Homo sapiens: one gene and its partner. The protein of the gene in region 2 interacts with the protein of the main gene of each other region in a pairwise test. Each region holds a gene or a part of one and is shown on either strand. Other genes may lie near its edges.

Region 1 (7,927 bases), on a different chromosome or scaffold from region 2:
TACAAAACAACTTGCTCAGAGTGTCTCTGACACTGAGGTAGACCAGATATGCACAACGACTAAAATGATAAATACATATTCCTTTTCTCGTTTGTGTCGCTCCTCCGCTTCCTTCATCATTTCTTGGGCCTGCTCAAGCTTTGCATCCACCAGCTTCTGCTGCAGTTCTCTGTGTTTAAATATTTTGTCCAGATGCTAAGAAAAATAAAGTGTACATAGAAAGCTTGGTTTATTATTGGTGCTTAAAAATGCAAAGTAAAATAATTCACATTAATACACATTCCCCAGGTTTTAAGATTTAAAAGAAGAGAGGGATAAATGCATTGGCATCACTTACAGCTTTATAATAAAGCTGTAAATTGGTGAACCCCTCCCCCTGACTTTGCACCACACACACAAAGCTAGCTATAAAAGGTAGAGGCACCAGAGTTCAGCAGTGTCAATGCCAAAAGATCCATACAATATTTTTCTACGTTTGGTAACTATTAGATATGATGCTATTTATTATGCTAGACAGCACAGACAATGATGTATCAGTATACAATATACAGGGGCTACAGTTGTATCATTTGGTATTTTGGCTCTTTCTGTGAATATAAAACCACTTTTAATTGCAACACTTGTGCAATTTATCATGATGAATTCTCTGCATTCTTGCCTCTGGCGTTGTGAGAAAGCCTTGGGGTGCCAGCATGTGGTCCGAGGTCTGGGAGTGAGGCCTGAGCCCCCCTGAATTCTACTCTGTTGCTCTGGTGGAGATGACAAGGCCAAGGGTCATAGAGAAATTGAGTCGCAAATGTGCAGAGCTCGCCACACCTTTTGACCTCTGGACTAGTTTGGTCAAGAGAAACTTCCAACTCTACCTCAGGATGGATAAATTCCTGGTCACTGGGAGGTCCAATCAGAAACAGGACATGGAATTCTCCCCTTGGGCTTTACTTAGAACCAGTCCCAGGAATATACAACTAGCATAGCAGCCCATTCCCATCTGAGATCTCTCTGAAGAATATGGACATTTTCCTTTCACTCCTTCCTATCTTCTTTAGTCTGAACCTCCATTCTGGAGCGGGATTGATCCTTATGACAAGATAAAATGGTAGCATGGCATTTTGGCTTACTATTAGGAGTTTCTTGATTTACCTAACCACCGCGACCATATGCTGTTGGCTCAGTTTTGTGCTTGATAAAATCTTAGCATGTTACCAACAGAGCCGCTTTGACTATGTTATGTTACATTTTAAAGCAGAGATTTAAAATTTGGGTGGGATAGGGAAAGGAATATGATGTGTCAAAATCCTGAGAGGGTATCTGGAATCTTAAAAATATATTAAATATTAAAATATAATTTGGGTATAACAAAAGACCTTGATCATCCCCCTAATATAACCTATTCAAAGTAAAAGGCTTTTGCCTCTTGTGACTGTGGGTAAGTGGTTTAATCTCTTAGCTTCTGCTTCTCATCTATAAGATATGGATAATATATTATTATCTAATGCATAAGATTGTTGAGACAATTAAATGCCATATGGTATGTAAAGTACAGCACTTAGCACATTGCCTGATACAAACTAACCACTGAATAAATGATATCATTATTATTACAATGATTACATTATTAATACTATTATTGGCCTGGTAGGGTACATAGAATACAGACTCTTTTTTTTTTTTTTTTTTTTGAGACGGAGTCTCACACTGTCGCCTGGGCTGGAGTGCAGTGGCGTGATCTCAGCTCACTGCAACCTCCACCTCCTGGGTTCAAGAGATTCTCCTGCCTCAGCCTCTCGAGTAGCTGGGATTACAGGCGCCCACCACCACGCCTGGCTAATTTTTTTTTGTATTTGTAGTAGAGACGGGATTTCACTATGTTGGCCAGGCTGCTCTCGAACTCCTGACCTCTTAATCCACCTGCCTTGGCCTCCCAAAGTGCTGGGATTACAGGCGTGAGCCACCGCGCCTGGCCAGAATACAGACTCTTAATTTAGATGACATGGCAATTCTTAAGAGGGAGTGCGTGAGTTATTTTTGGCTATAGAGAGAGGATTTTTAAAAGGCTGAGAAATATTATTTTCAAGGAAAACTGTGCCCACAGCCTATCACTTTCTATTTATTGCCTTTACTTTGTAGTGATGCCAGTTTTGAAGAAATCCCATATGACTTTCAGTCAGGTATTTTGTAAGACCATCTGTCTTCATTTTGGCTCGTCAAGGAAATCCAATCCTAAATATTAATCAGTTGAGAGGGCTGGCTGTAACTGTCTTATTAACCAAGTTCCCACCTTTAGCTCCCAGATCCGGATCTATGTACTGTTCTAAGTTGTTTGATGTGGTTCTCACCTCCTCTCTGAGCTCATACTGATCGATGATGCTTTTCAGCTTTTCTGCAAGCTCTGTGTTCTCCTGACAGAGCTTCATATTTCGCTCACTCTGCTGCTCGATCTGGCCCTGGATGTCCGTGAGGGTACTCTGGAAATGGCTTGTGATTTCCTTCCTTTTCTCTTCTTCCTCACGTGCCCGCTGAAGCGCCTCTTCCTGCGGATAAAAAGCAAAACATTTTGTTTAAATGCACCCCGGGTTTATAGAACTCAGCATTAGGTCACCTAAAGGAGATAAGTGTGCAGAGTAGGTGGGATGTTTTTTCTCAGTTCTCTAGAGCTAAAGCTGCTCAGCCCCAAAATAAATGTATGAGTAAAGGTTTCAGCTGTGAGTACATAGTTACTCAGAACAGGTGCTGTGAAGGCCTTGAATTTGTAGTCAGTGATGAATAGACTTGTTTTAAAGATGATGCGTCTCTTGCTGAGTGAATGAACTGCAGCGATTTCTAACAAACACACAGTCACACGATTTTGATCTCTTGGCTGTGGCCTGAAAAAAAGGCCACTTGAGTTTACTGATGGATGAGACAGATCATGTGTTTCTCTGGTTTGGTAAAGGGAGAACAATAGATCTTATATTTCCCTGTAAAAACCATGGCATATTAACCACATAATTATATTACCAAGTTTTGTAAATATAAGTGATCACAATAAAAATTTTCTATTTGTGAGAAAAAACTTTCATCAAAAAGCTTTAAAAAAGGAAACTAAGACAGCATAGCTCAATTACAGCCATTCAAGAATATAAAAGGGAATCTTTCCAAACATGCTGGATATTATTTTGTTTTTGAAAGAACAATCATTAAATGTGTCACATAGGGTAATTAAAATGTTCAATGTAAATTTTGAATCTGAAAGCAATATTAAGTTTCAAATCTTCTTTAACTCTAAAGTGAAACATCTAATTTTCCTTCTTCCGCTTTGTTAACATTGAAGAATTGCAAATTAACTTTTATATCATTTCTGTTCTCTTTTCTCCTAAATCAAAACTCTCCATTCATTGCTAGCCACTAACAATGAGCTCCAATTTCCTCCATATCTATATTGAGAATTGCTTTGCGATTGTTATTCTTTTTGAATAAAAGGGTTTAATTTTGCTACATCCTACCAAAGATAGAGACATTTACGTGGCTGACAAATGATACAGACATTTTAGGATTCCTTTCAGTTCTGATTAATTGTTAATATGAAAGCTTGCTTCGTTGTTGGCAAGTAAAATTATACTGAATTTGATTGCCTACCAAGTTCAAATTATGTAACAGGATTTTTTAAAAGAAATAATAATTTTTAACAGAAGTAATTGTACAGACCTTTATCATAACAGAATAATGTGATCCAAATAAAAACTGATGCTGAGAATATATGCTCTGAAAATATTTTATCATTAGGTTTCTTCTTTCCTCTATAATAACAACACATTTCCCAACTCTAATGTGACTCCTGATGTCAGAATCATAATTTATTCATGTTATAAACCTTTATTAAGCAACAACTTCTCAGGGGTATTGAAGATATCTGTACTTCTTAAACTGAAGAAATAAACTATCCGAGATGTTATTTCCCTGAACTTTGTATACTAACACTTACTATATGTGTTTCGCTAAAAATAATTATGGTTACCAGTTAGGAGCAACTAAATATATGTGTGATTATGATTGTTTCCTCACTGGTCCTGATTAGCTTAGAAGTCAGCAAGTTTGGAATCAGAACTACAGACCATGATTTGAATACCGTTTGTATTTATAAATATTCCATGAATGAATAAATGAAACACCCCATGCAAGTCTGAGTTGTTGTTTTTTTTTTAATTGGGAACTGGCTATAGAAAGAAGGTACAGATGATAGGATGGCACTAAATAAATGTCAAACAAACAATCATAACCGCCAATCCTGGCCCAAAAGATGTAATCTTGCATATATATATATTTTTTGTTTTGTTTTGTTTTGTTTTGTTTTGTTTTGAGATGAAGTCTCACTCTGTCGCCCAGGCTGGAGTGCAGTGGCATGATCTCGGCTCACTGCAACCTCCAACACCCGAGTTCAAGTGATTCTCCTGCCTCAGCCCCCTGAGTAGCTGGGATTACAGGCACGCATCACCAAGCTCAGCTAATTTTTTTATTTTTAGTAGAGACGGGGTTTCACCATGTTGGCGAGGCTGGTCTCAAACTCCAGACCTCAGATGATCTGCCCACCTTGGCCGCCCAAAGTGCTGGGATTATGGGGGTTGAGCCACTGCCCCCGGCCTATATTGTTTTTCAATGAGACCAAAAGAAATCTAGCAAAATCTTATAAAATTTGAGTCCATTGTTAGAAGGATTTTCAATCATTTGGACAGTGTCTGAGATAAAATTATCTTTTCTTTATCAAATACATTATTCAAAGTCAAAATAATGTCAATAAAATTGAGGGATGAAGTCTGAGATAACAAAAAAACCTTGCAAGCATCATTGTGCATCTTACAACTGGTGCTGTGCCTGGCACATAATCCAAAGGTATTCAGTAAATGTTTATTTAATGAATCAGTGAATTATTAATTTATGTACAGACATATGAGTAGCTTGGACTAGATCATTCCTACAGTCCTTTCCACATTAAAATTCTGTGATATTCTGACAACAAATGCTTCTCATTTCTTTAGGAAAATCATGCTCCCTGAGACACTTACCCCTCTCTTACTAGGCAGTTCTTTTTCAGCATAGTTTGAGGCTCAGATTTATCACTTTGAATATATGTATGATTTTGTTGAAACAAACCCATGTCTCAGACTTTTATCAATCCTTTCTTAAGTTATCCTAAATTGTGAGGTTGTATGTGTGTGTGTGTGTGTGTCTGTGTGTGTGTGTGTGCGTTTGACTCATTAAAGAAGCGGTTTTAATAAAGAAAAGTAAAAGCTAAAATTTGTGATGGCGGAAATACCTAGTTATACATTGTCTTTCTATATCTTCCCAAGCTCCCAGCGCATGGATTTTAGATTTAGGTACACTTAAGGTGTTTCACTAGTGTGGCCAAGGAAGCTCATATCAAGTTGACCCTTTTGCAAATAACAACTGTAAACTCTGGATGAAATGCAAGAAACAATGATGACACTAGAGAGTAAACAAAATCAGACAGACTCTAGAGGGAAGTTGGCACTTGTACATGAGTTTCCTATTCTTTATAGCTTTTAGCTTGAGGGAAATCTGCAGTTGGCAGGAGTATGAGGTGGGCAAAATTCTCATATAAAACATACCATCTTTCATATTAGAAGAATAAGAATACAGAGTTCTGGACAACTATAGTCCCTCAACAGTGAGGGGAAGATCACCCAAAAAAAGAGAGAGTCAGAGAAATAGAGCCCAGATCCTGTGAATGAACTTTACACAAATCTGATTGGCCTTGAGCCACACATGTGCAAAGCAGTCTAGCTAAGTAGAAAAGAACTGAACTGAGATTTCAGCTGCTGCTCAAGAGACAAAGTTTATGGTTTGAATCTAACCAAATTAATTGTCTGCTTAAAAAAATAAAAACTATTCATCATATAGTAGAATCCAGATTCTCCAGAACATAATAGTCACAATATCCAGGATCCAATAGACAATGGCTTGACATATGAAGAACCAAGAAAATATGGCCTATTCTCAAAAGAAAAGACAATTAGAGAAGGCTTTTTCTACAATGCTGCAAATGTGGAATTAGCAGACAAGTATTTTAAAACAGGTATTATAACTATGGTCAATGATGTAAAGGAAAATATTATCTCAATGAATGAGAAGGTAGAAAATCTCAGGTGAGAGGTTACATACAAAAAAAGAACCAAATGGAAATTCTGAAATTAAAAATCGCAAAATCTGAAACACAACCATCACTGGATGGATTTAGAGCAGAATGAAAATGAGAGAGAAAAGAATCACTGAATGTGAAGATAGACCAATCAAAATAAGATAATCTAAAAATAAAAGAGAAAAAGTATTGGTGAAGAATGTGAAGACTGACTCGAAGACCTGTGGGACAATATCAAAAGGTCTACACACACAGAGTTAGAATCTTAGAAGGGAAGAAGATGGAGAGAAAGTGGAGCAGAAAAACTATTTGAAGAAATAATGGCTGAAAGAAATTCAAATTTGGTAAAAGACATATAATTACAGATACAAAAAAGCTTAGCAAATACCAAGTAGGGTACATGTGAAAAAAACCACTCCTGGCCTTAAAGCAGTAAAAGTTCTGAAAACGAAAGATCAATACAAAGACCTTGAAAAGGGCAGAGAAAAAGGACATATCACATATGGGGGAACAATAATTCAAATGATTGTTGATTTTCATGAGAAATTTTAAAAGCCAGTATAGTGGCACATTTATTTAAGGCTAAAAGGAAAAAAAAAAAAAAAACCCACGAATAGGTTCTCTCAATGCAGAATTCTATATCCAATGAATTTAGCCTTCAATTAAAAAAAAAATAAAGATGTTTTAAAGATAAAAGGCAACTAAGAGAATTGATTACCAGCAGATTTGTACTATAAGAAATACTAAAAGAAGTACTTCAGGCTGAGGGAAATGACATCAGACAGAAATGTGAAGCTACAGAATGAATAAGAAGTATCAGGAATGGTAAACATCTGGGTAGATAAAAGGGATATAGTTTTGCCTTTAATTTAAGAAGAAATACATATTATTGTTTAAAGTAAAAATTATAACAATGTCTCATCGGCTTTACAAAAGTATATAAATATAATACATATAATGATGATAGCTTAAAGGCTGAGGGAGTAAATTGATCTATTTAGTTGCAGTGTTTCTACATGTTATGTGAAGTAATACAACATTAACTCCAGGAAGACTATGAAAAATTAAGAATGTATATTGTAATCACAGAGCAACTACTAAAGATAATGTGTAGTGTTATAATTTCAAAATACAAGAGATGAAATGTAATTTTTAAATATTCAAATAATCCAAAGGAAGGCAGGAAAAGAACAAGATAAACAAAGCAGAGGTGACAAATAATAAATAATAAAATGGTAGACATATATCAAACCACATCAGTAAGTACATTATATGTTAATGGACTAGTACTGCAATTAAAGGGCAGATACTGTAGGAATGAAAAGAAGTAAGATCCAGCTATATGCTATCTTGAAAGAATGCACTTTAAATATAAAGACCCAGGCTGAAAATGAATGGATGAAAAGAGATACACCAGGCAAACAATAAGAGTAAGAAAACTAGAGTGGCTAAATTGATATCAGATAATGTAGACATCCAGACAAAGATTATTACTGGTCGGGCGTGGTGGCTCACACCTGTAATCCCAACACTTTGGGAGGCCGAGGCGGGTAGATCACAAGCTCAGGAGTTCAAGGCCAACCTGGCCAAGATGGTGAAACCCCGTCTCTACTAAAAATACAAAAATTAGCCAGGCATGGTGGCGGGTGCCTGTAATTTCAGCTACTCAGGAGGCTAAGGCAGAGAATTGCTTGAACCCGGGAGGCGGAGGTTGCAGTGAGCCGAGATTGCACCACCGCACTCCAGCCTGGACGACAGAGCGAGACTCCATCTCACAAAAAAAAAAAAAAAAAA
Region 2 (7,927 bases):
GAGAGCAGCATTGTGCTAAGTACTGGAGGGTCCAGCATAAAAGGCTTGGTTCTCGTCCTGAAGTTGAGAGTCTGCTAGAGGCGACCATTGACAAAGGCCCTGGGTGTAAGTGCTGTGGCTTAAGAGGGGCAGTAAGCCCAGTGGTTAGGGGCCAGCTCAGAGCTAGACTGCAGAGGTTCAAATCCCAGCTTCACCACTTATAAGCTCTGTGGCTTCAGGCAAGGTCCCGAACCTGTCTATGCCTCAGTCTCTTCATCTGTAAAATGGGGATGATGATACCCCAGATTCATAGGGCTGTTGTGAGGATTAAATGTGTTAATACATGTAAAGCTTTTAGCACCACAGCTCGTGTGGTGTGCTGTAAGCATTAGCTAATGTTGCGATGACATAATTGTTTCTCTGATGTGCTCGGGTTGTCCTGGGTACACACAGCCCAGCCTGGGCAAATCAAGCAAAACTTCCCCCAGGAGAAAATCCCTGAGAACTGAACTAAGGCACAGAAGGGAGTGAAGGGCTTTCCAGGCTGGAGGAAAGCTTGTGCCGAGTCAGGGGTGTGAAAGAGCATGGTGTCCGGCGGGACAGGAGTGCTGGGTCGGGGTTGGAAAGATTGTGTCTTATGGAGAAGAAACGAAAGGGTTCTAGTGGAGAATGCGAGGCTGGAAGGAACAGCAGGAGCGCGTGGTGAGAGGAGGTGTGGAGGGGATGGGTCAGCAGTGCCTGCGTCTTCCCCTGCCCTTGGGAGCCCATCGAGGAAGTGGATGTGACCGTTTTCCAGGTGAACAGATTAGGTCATAATGAGACAAGGTGTTGGCTGAGCTGCCCCCACCTGGCTCCTCCAGCAGCCAGAGGAGTTAGCTCATGGTTGGCGAAGGCTCCTCCAAGGAGCCGCTGTGGGCCTGGGAGCCAGGGAGCTTGTTGGAACAGCAGTCTCTGTGTGTGGCATGGGTCCTCGGCACTGGCACACAGAGCTGCAGAAAGGCTGACGCGCCCCCCCAAGGGCTTGTCCCCACTGCTGCTGGGTGGCCTGCCTGGCGGGGCGTGCCTGGGCCTGGTGGGATTACAGGGTCTGATGTCGTTTTTCTAGACACCCTAGGTCCCAGGTCTGGCAGCGTCCTTTGGCTTCCTTCTCCGGCCCCTCCACCCCTAGGAACGACCCAGGTTACATGTAAAGAAAGCCCGTTTGTTTAGAGTGTTGGGGGGCTCTTCCTCCCGGGGCCTGGGCCCCAGGAGTCCCTGGTTTGTCAAGCGAGGGGAGGCCTCCACTGCTTTTCCAGCCCAGGAAGCTGCCCAGTGCTGGCATCTGTTCCCCGGCACCCGGCCAGCACCTCTCTGCCGGCTCAGGCCGGGTCCAGCTCAGTGCCCAGTGAGCAGTGACAAGCTTTTCTGCTGTCACGTCCCTGCGCCTGTGTGGGTGACATTCCAGCTGAGCTCCTGTGCCTAGTGGGAGGGAAGAAACCCCTTTGGGCTTGTTCAGGCACCAGGGCACCCAGGGGGACAGTGCTCCCCAAACACTGACGACCAGGAAAACACATGCTGCTTGAGCAACTCCTCGCGGTCTGACTGTGCTGGGGGCAATCCCATTCCTGCAGCAGCTCCTCACCATCTGGCTGTGCTGGGGGCAATCCCGTTCCTGCCAGCTACGGGTGACCACCTGCTCTAAAATAGTGACTCCCCAACTCAGGCCTCTCCACATTGCACACACGCCTATTCAGGTGGGTACAGCTCTTTACAGTTTAAAGAGAGCTCTCACATACCAGGTTCCATAGATCCTCAGCCATTGCACAGATTAGGGAACTGAGGCCACGAGGAAAGGACTGAGCCTGGGTGCTCGGCTTGTCAGCAGTGCTGGGACCAGAAACCAGGCTTCTGGGGCCTGGCCTTGGTCTGCCATGCAGAGAGCACAGGGTGGAGTCTCTCCAACACCCCGAGCCGTGGGCGGGGCATTCACAATGTGAGCAGAGAGGGAAGGGAGCAGGCATGGAATGGTTTTAGTAAGTGGAGCTGTTCTCTCCCTTCTATGGCAGAACAGACTCCACTAAGTTTTGAGACCTGAAAATCTGGGGGAGGTGGGATCAACTGACTTCGTGTCGTTTGGTGTCCAGGGAAGGATGTGAGGGGGCAGGGATTGTCTTGGGCCACCCAGCAGGTCAGAGACCAACAGAGTGTCTGCTCAGTGCAGTTGGAGGGTCATGATCTGTCATGTGACGGTGATATAACTCTGATAGGTTATGTCATCTTAATAATGACATTTTAAAAACCATGACTAAGGCTACATGACTATGTCTAGGGCTTCCTGTAGACCAGGCAGTGTGCTGAGAGCTCACATTTGTAACCTTATTGAATCCCTGATTAGGACTTACGAGGTAGATGTTATTATCCCCAGAACTAGCCTCATGGCTGTGGGCAGTGGCACAGGGCCCCTCGTGTGGGTTCATGCTCTGCTGTCCCTGTCTTGAAATTCTTAGAACTTTTTTTTTTTTTTTTTTTAAGACAGAGTCTCGCCCTGTCGCCCAGGCTGGAATGCAGTAGTGCGATCTTGGCTCACTGCAACCTCTGCCTCCTGGTTTCAAGCGATTCTCCTGCCCCAGTCTCCCAAGTAGCTGGGATTACAGGCGTGCGCCACTACGCCCAGCTAATTTTTGTATTTTTAGTAGAGACGGGGTTTCACTATGTTGGTCAGGCTGGTCTTGAACTCTTGACCTCGTGATCCACCCGCCTCGGCCTCCCAAAGTGCTGGGATTACAGATATGAGCCACGGCGCCCGGCCAATTCTTAGAACTTTTTAAACAAGGAGCCCCGCATCTTCGTTTCATACTGAGCCTTGTGAATTATGTAGTCGTTCCGGTTGTTCTCATTTCTCAGAAGAGGACACAGAGGCCCAGAGTGGTCATGAAGCAATGTGCCAGCGTCACAAAGCCAATGGCTGCCCTGGAGCTCTAACCCAGAGCCCACACTCTCCAGAGTAGAAAGAGGCTGAGACAGAGTCAAATGACTGTGCCCAGGTCCAGCTGCTGGCACCTGCCTGTGACCAGGAGGTGAGGCACTTCACCTGCCCTAGCCTCGATTTCTCCTTGGTGAAATGGGGTGATCCCGCCTGCCTCTGGGGGCTACTTTGGGGCTCACATGGGCAGATGTGCACACTGTGTTTTCTGCACTTCACCAAGCTCAGCAGATCTGAGGACCATCACTAGCTGGTCACAGTTCACAGGGGCTAATGCCCGTGCCACCAGATGGTCCTGACATGGTCTATGCAGGCCTTCACCTGAGGTCAGCAGTTCCAGACCAGCCTGGCCAAGGTGGTGAAACCTTGTCTCTACTAAAAATACAAAAAATTAGCTGGGTATGGTGGCAGCTGCCTGTAACCCCAGCTACTCGGGAGGCTGAGGCAGGAGAATCGCTTGAACCCAAGAGGTGGAGGTGGCAGTGAGCCAAGATCACGCCATTGCACTCCAGCCTGGGTGACAAGAGTGAAAACTCCGTCTCAAAAAAAAGAAAAAGAAAAGAAACCAATAATTGAAATAAATTGTCTGCAATACAGTTACAGACTTGTAGCAGTTTCCTACCCTGAGAGGAGCCCCTCACCCAGCAGTGGTAGCCCAGTGGGATGCCCTCACCTCTGCAGTGGGAGCCTGCTGGTGGGGGAGGGGGTGGGCCACCAGGGCTCCTCATCCATGTTATCTCCTCACAGAACTCAGGGCGGGAGGGTGCTGCTCATCCGCCTGCAGTTGAATCCTCTCCAGGAAGCTTTGATGGATCTAATCAGAGCTCCCCTGCCAGGGAGAAGGAAGCCCTGTAGGTGCAGCTGCCCCAGACATGCTCAAAACAGATCCTGGCACCTCAGCAAAGAGGCAGACGGCGCCTGGGAGGGGCCCCAGAAAGCAGCTGATAAGTCTTTAGATTTGGACAGATTCTGACCGTGAAACTGCACAGGAGACTCCCATGAGTACATTTCGCATTTGCGGACTTAGCGTGCTAAGTCTTCAGAGAGTGCCGGTGAATTTTAGTTCTGCCAATCTGCTAGAACATAGGAGGTTGGTATTTATCACTCCCATTTTACAGATGAAGAAAATGAGACTTAGCAAGCCTGACAAGACGTAGAGCTAGGCCATCTGATCCCAACTCTAGTGTCTGCATCTGGAGACAGTGGTTCTCCACCCCGGCTGCACACTCGGATCATCGGGGGAGCTGAACACTGCTGTCTAAGTCCCATCTCTCGACCAATTGAATCAGAATCCAGTTCCTCAGGGGGATTCTCGCTTGCTCCAAGCAGAGCTGGAGGTGACAGCGGGTTTCTCTGCTTACCAGTTGGGGTGGACTATTCCTTCTCATTCTCCATGGATGCCCCTTGCTAGGGCAGGCTCGTAGCCTAGGGCGGCAGAGGTCGGGCAGCAGGACGTCCTCCATTCACATCCCCACCACAGGCTGGGGCTGAGGAAAACGTCTGGACTGGAAAGTTCTGCTCTCCTTTCTTAAGCGTCTGCGTGCCATGTCGGAGAGGAATCCCAGGACACCGCGAGGTGGTCCTGCTGCCTGTTCAGCTTTTGCCACCCTCATCTTAATTCTTTTCCCTCCTATCCTCACCTCCCTTCTGCCCAGTTCCCCTCACTCCAAACAAGTAATCATGACTATGGCTATTCCCTTCCTTTTTTTTTTTTTTTTTTTTTGGCCGGGATGTTTTTAGGCATTTACAAGTCAGTAACAATCCCTCTTTCTTTCTCCTTTTTCACCCCAAGGGTGGCCTACTCTCCAGGCTGCTGAGAATCTTGCTTTTCTTCATTTAAGCTTTATCTCAAACATCATTCCATATCAATTCATTCTTTTTTATAGCTGCATGTCCCCCAGCACAGATTTTTTTTTTTAAAACACACCCTTAAAATCCAGGGCTTACCACCTGGGTCCAAATCAGATGTCTCCTACTCTGATTCACCCATGTCCACTGCCCACCCCATGGACCTCGGACCACAGAGTCTGGAGGCTGCGGTCTCTTCTTACTGGGAGTTAGATTTCTACCCTGTGTCTGATGTTATGGGGTAGGAGCTGGGGCTTATGCCTCCTCTCTGGAGATGGGGAGGCCACATCAGATCCCATAGCTGAAGTCTTTACCAAACAGGTGCTGCCATGCGGGCACTTAGGTGAACACGAGAAGCCTCGTTCTAGAACAATGAGTCACAGCCTGCTTGTTTAGCCATCCAGCCCAGGTGCCACCGCCTTCTTCCCTCCACAGCTGCAGGTTTATTTGCTTCTGTCTCTGAAGAGGTGAGGTAAGGTGTTGTTCTTGGAGGAAGAAGCTAGGAGCGTAGAGTAAGACCTGGATGTAGAAACGGCTGCTGGAGGACAGGACCTGTGGTGGGTGGAGGTGGTGAGGGGGCAGTGGCACCTGGACGGAGCAGACCCACCTTAGCCTGTGTGGGGTGCGGTTTCCCTGCTGGCTGGCTCTGGGGACCCCCCGGCTGTTGCCACAGAGAGGAAAGACCTGTGGCCTCAGATTCAGACAGCCTGAGCTTGTCCCCACAACTTATTGCTGGGAGATCTCGGTGAGTCATTTAACTTCTAGGATATGTGGGTTCCTCGTGTGTGAAATGAGAATAAAAACAAATCCCTGCAGACTTGCTGGGGGCATTAAATAAGATAGTAGAGGCGGAGTCGTTTTTATATAAATGGTAAAACACTGCACAATTTTTCAATTGCTCATTAACTTCTCTGCATTGAATTAAGGCATTAAAATGATCTCACTTCCGTCCCGGACTAGCCATGAGAAGCGCAGCCACCAGTCCACTCTGAGCCTCAGTTTCCCCTCCTGTGGAGTGGACGTGCCCGCCTCTGAGTGGCAGGGCAGGGATCGGGACTGATGCGGTTCTCATCCCTCCCACAGGGTCTCCAGCCACCTGCCCTTCCCGAGAAGAGAGAGCTCTGGGCCTTCTTCCTGCCAGTCTGGTCTTCGAGTGCGTTCAGGACAGATAGACCTTGGCACAGGCTGCCCCGAGATTCCTGCGACGCTGTCTGTTCCTGCCTTCTGTGGAGCATGGCACCCACAGGCTTCCAGGACGGATCATAGACCCGAGCCTCCAGGAGGGCGCCCTGTGCGGCTCACTGCGCGGTCCCTCTCAGCTCCCCTGCCACCCAGCCTCTGAGGCCGGCTCCTGTCCCGGAAATGCCCTCGGGCACCTGGATGAGGCCATCCCAGAGCGGGACCCAACTGTGCCACCCACCAAGCCTCCCCCTGCGCCCCCCGTGCCCTCGCATGTCCGGCTGCCAGGGCAGACTGTAGAATGTCTGTGCCCCAGATCCACGTGGAAGAAGTGGGTGCAGAAGAGGGGGCGGGAGCAGCCGCACCACCCGATGACCACCTCCGGAGCCTGAAGGCCCTCACCGAGAAACTGAGGCTGGAGACCCGCAGGCCCTCCTACCTGGAATGGCAGGCCAGGCTGGAGGAGCATACCTGGCCCTTCCCGAGGCCGGCTGCGGAGCCACAGGCGAGCTTGGAGGAGGGGGAGCGTGGGGGGCAGGAGCCCTTGCTCCCCCTGAGAGAGGCTGGGCAGCACCCCCCTTCTGCCAGGAGTGCCAGCCAAGGTGCCAGACCCCTGTCCACTGGCAAGCTGGAAGGCTTTCAGAGCATCGATGAAGCTATAGCCTGGCTCAGGAAGGAACTGGTGAGTGGCTGCCCCCAAGAATCCCCAGAAAAGAGGAGATGCCACCGTCTCTCTGTGTCTTTTTCTGTCTCTCTCTGTCTGTCTCCCCACCCCCACCATGTATTTCTTCCCCTCTCTCTAACCCCCAAGTGCACATCTGTAATCTTCCCGTGAGTTGAAGGCAGGCGTCATTTGTATGTGGCTGGGGGGACCCAGGTGTCATCAGCCCCTAATTGCAGACACTAATGAAGGAAGCAGGTGTTTTCTGGCAGAACCTGAACCCATGTTAAGGTGTACCCCCCTCCCCCCAACACCGCTCCCAGTACTGGAGTCTGGCTCCTGGGGTGTGACTGCCCCTCCCTCTGTGCTGGAACCTCCCCACCCTGCTGTCCACCCCAGCTGCCTGCCACTCCGGGGACCACTCTTCTGCACGTGAGCGGCCTCTTCTTGTGCTGGGCGCTGGCCGGGTGGCTCCATGGGGCACAGTGGCTGGGGTGTGGCTGTGCAGGGCGCTGCTGTGAGGAGCTGGCTCGGTGTGGAATGTGCTCGAGTGGTGAGGAGTTGTGGAGCTGCCCAGAGTCGGCGGGATGGGTCCTGCCTGGGGAGAAGCTCGGTGAGGAGGCTCAGAGGAGGAGTTGGCTCAGAAGTCAGGGCGGGGCCAGGTGTGAGGTAAAGGCACATTGTGTTTGAGCTGGGACCGCAGCGCGGTCACTTTCCTGCTCATAGGCAAAGCAGATTCCCAATAGGAGCATCTTTTGTGCATGGTGACTCAGCCTGAGAACAGGGTGGGGGGGCAGAGCTGGGTGCCCTGTCCCCTTCCACCCCCCCAGGGGAGAATCACCCGTGTCTGGCACGACAGCCTCTCAGCAGCACCAGGCATGAAGCTAACCCTACCCCAGCTCTCAACCCCTGCCCCACCCCGTCCCTGAGGCCCAGGTGACACCTGCGAGTCAGGCCACTCTGGCCACAGGTGAGCCAGCCATCAAGGGCAGCTGCCTTCCAGAGCCGGCAGTGGCTCTTGGGTCAGCTGGGTAGGCTGAGGCCTGCTTGGTTTGTTTTGCAGAATCCCGAAAACTAAATCCCCATGAGGCCTGGAATGCCTCAGGGGCTGAGAGAATCCACTGGGGTTTGGAGTGGGGCAGGGCTCAGGGACGCAGGGATCTGACTGATTAATTGGAAGCCTGTTTGCGTTTTAACACTTGATACCGAGAGTGCTTCTCAGAACACACCATTCTATTATATCCGTCTTTAGTAACGAGAGGGTGCATGTGCTGTCGGCTTCGGAGAAGATGAGGCAC

The links. The genes of interacting proteins can lie anywhere in the genome.
Region 1: the proteins of FAM167A (region 2) and TXLNB interact in binary tests that used the Homo sapiens proteins (3 or more experiments, as listed by UniProt).

Annotation. Positions count from the first base shown.
Region 1 is NC_000006.12:139,260,243-139,268,169, forward strand, and holds part of TXLNB (beta-taxilin), read right to left. Parts: intron 2,532-7,927; coding exon 2,337-2,531; intron 196-2,336; coding exon 76-195; intron 1-75. UniProt on the Homo sapiens protein: Promotes motor nerve regeneration. May be involved in intracellular vesicle traffic.
Region 2 is NC_000008.11:11,442,754-11,450,680, reverse strand, and holds part of FAM167A (protein FAM167A), read left to right. Parts: intron 1-343; exon of another isoform or gene 344-681; intron 682-3,907; exon of another isoform or gene 3,908-4,278; intron 4,279-4,665; exon of another isoform or gene 4,666-5,534; intron 5,535-5,872; 5' UTR 5,873-6,269; coding exon 6,270-6,650; intron 6,651-7,927.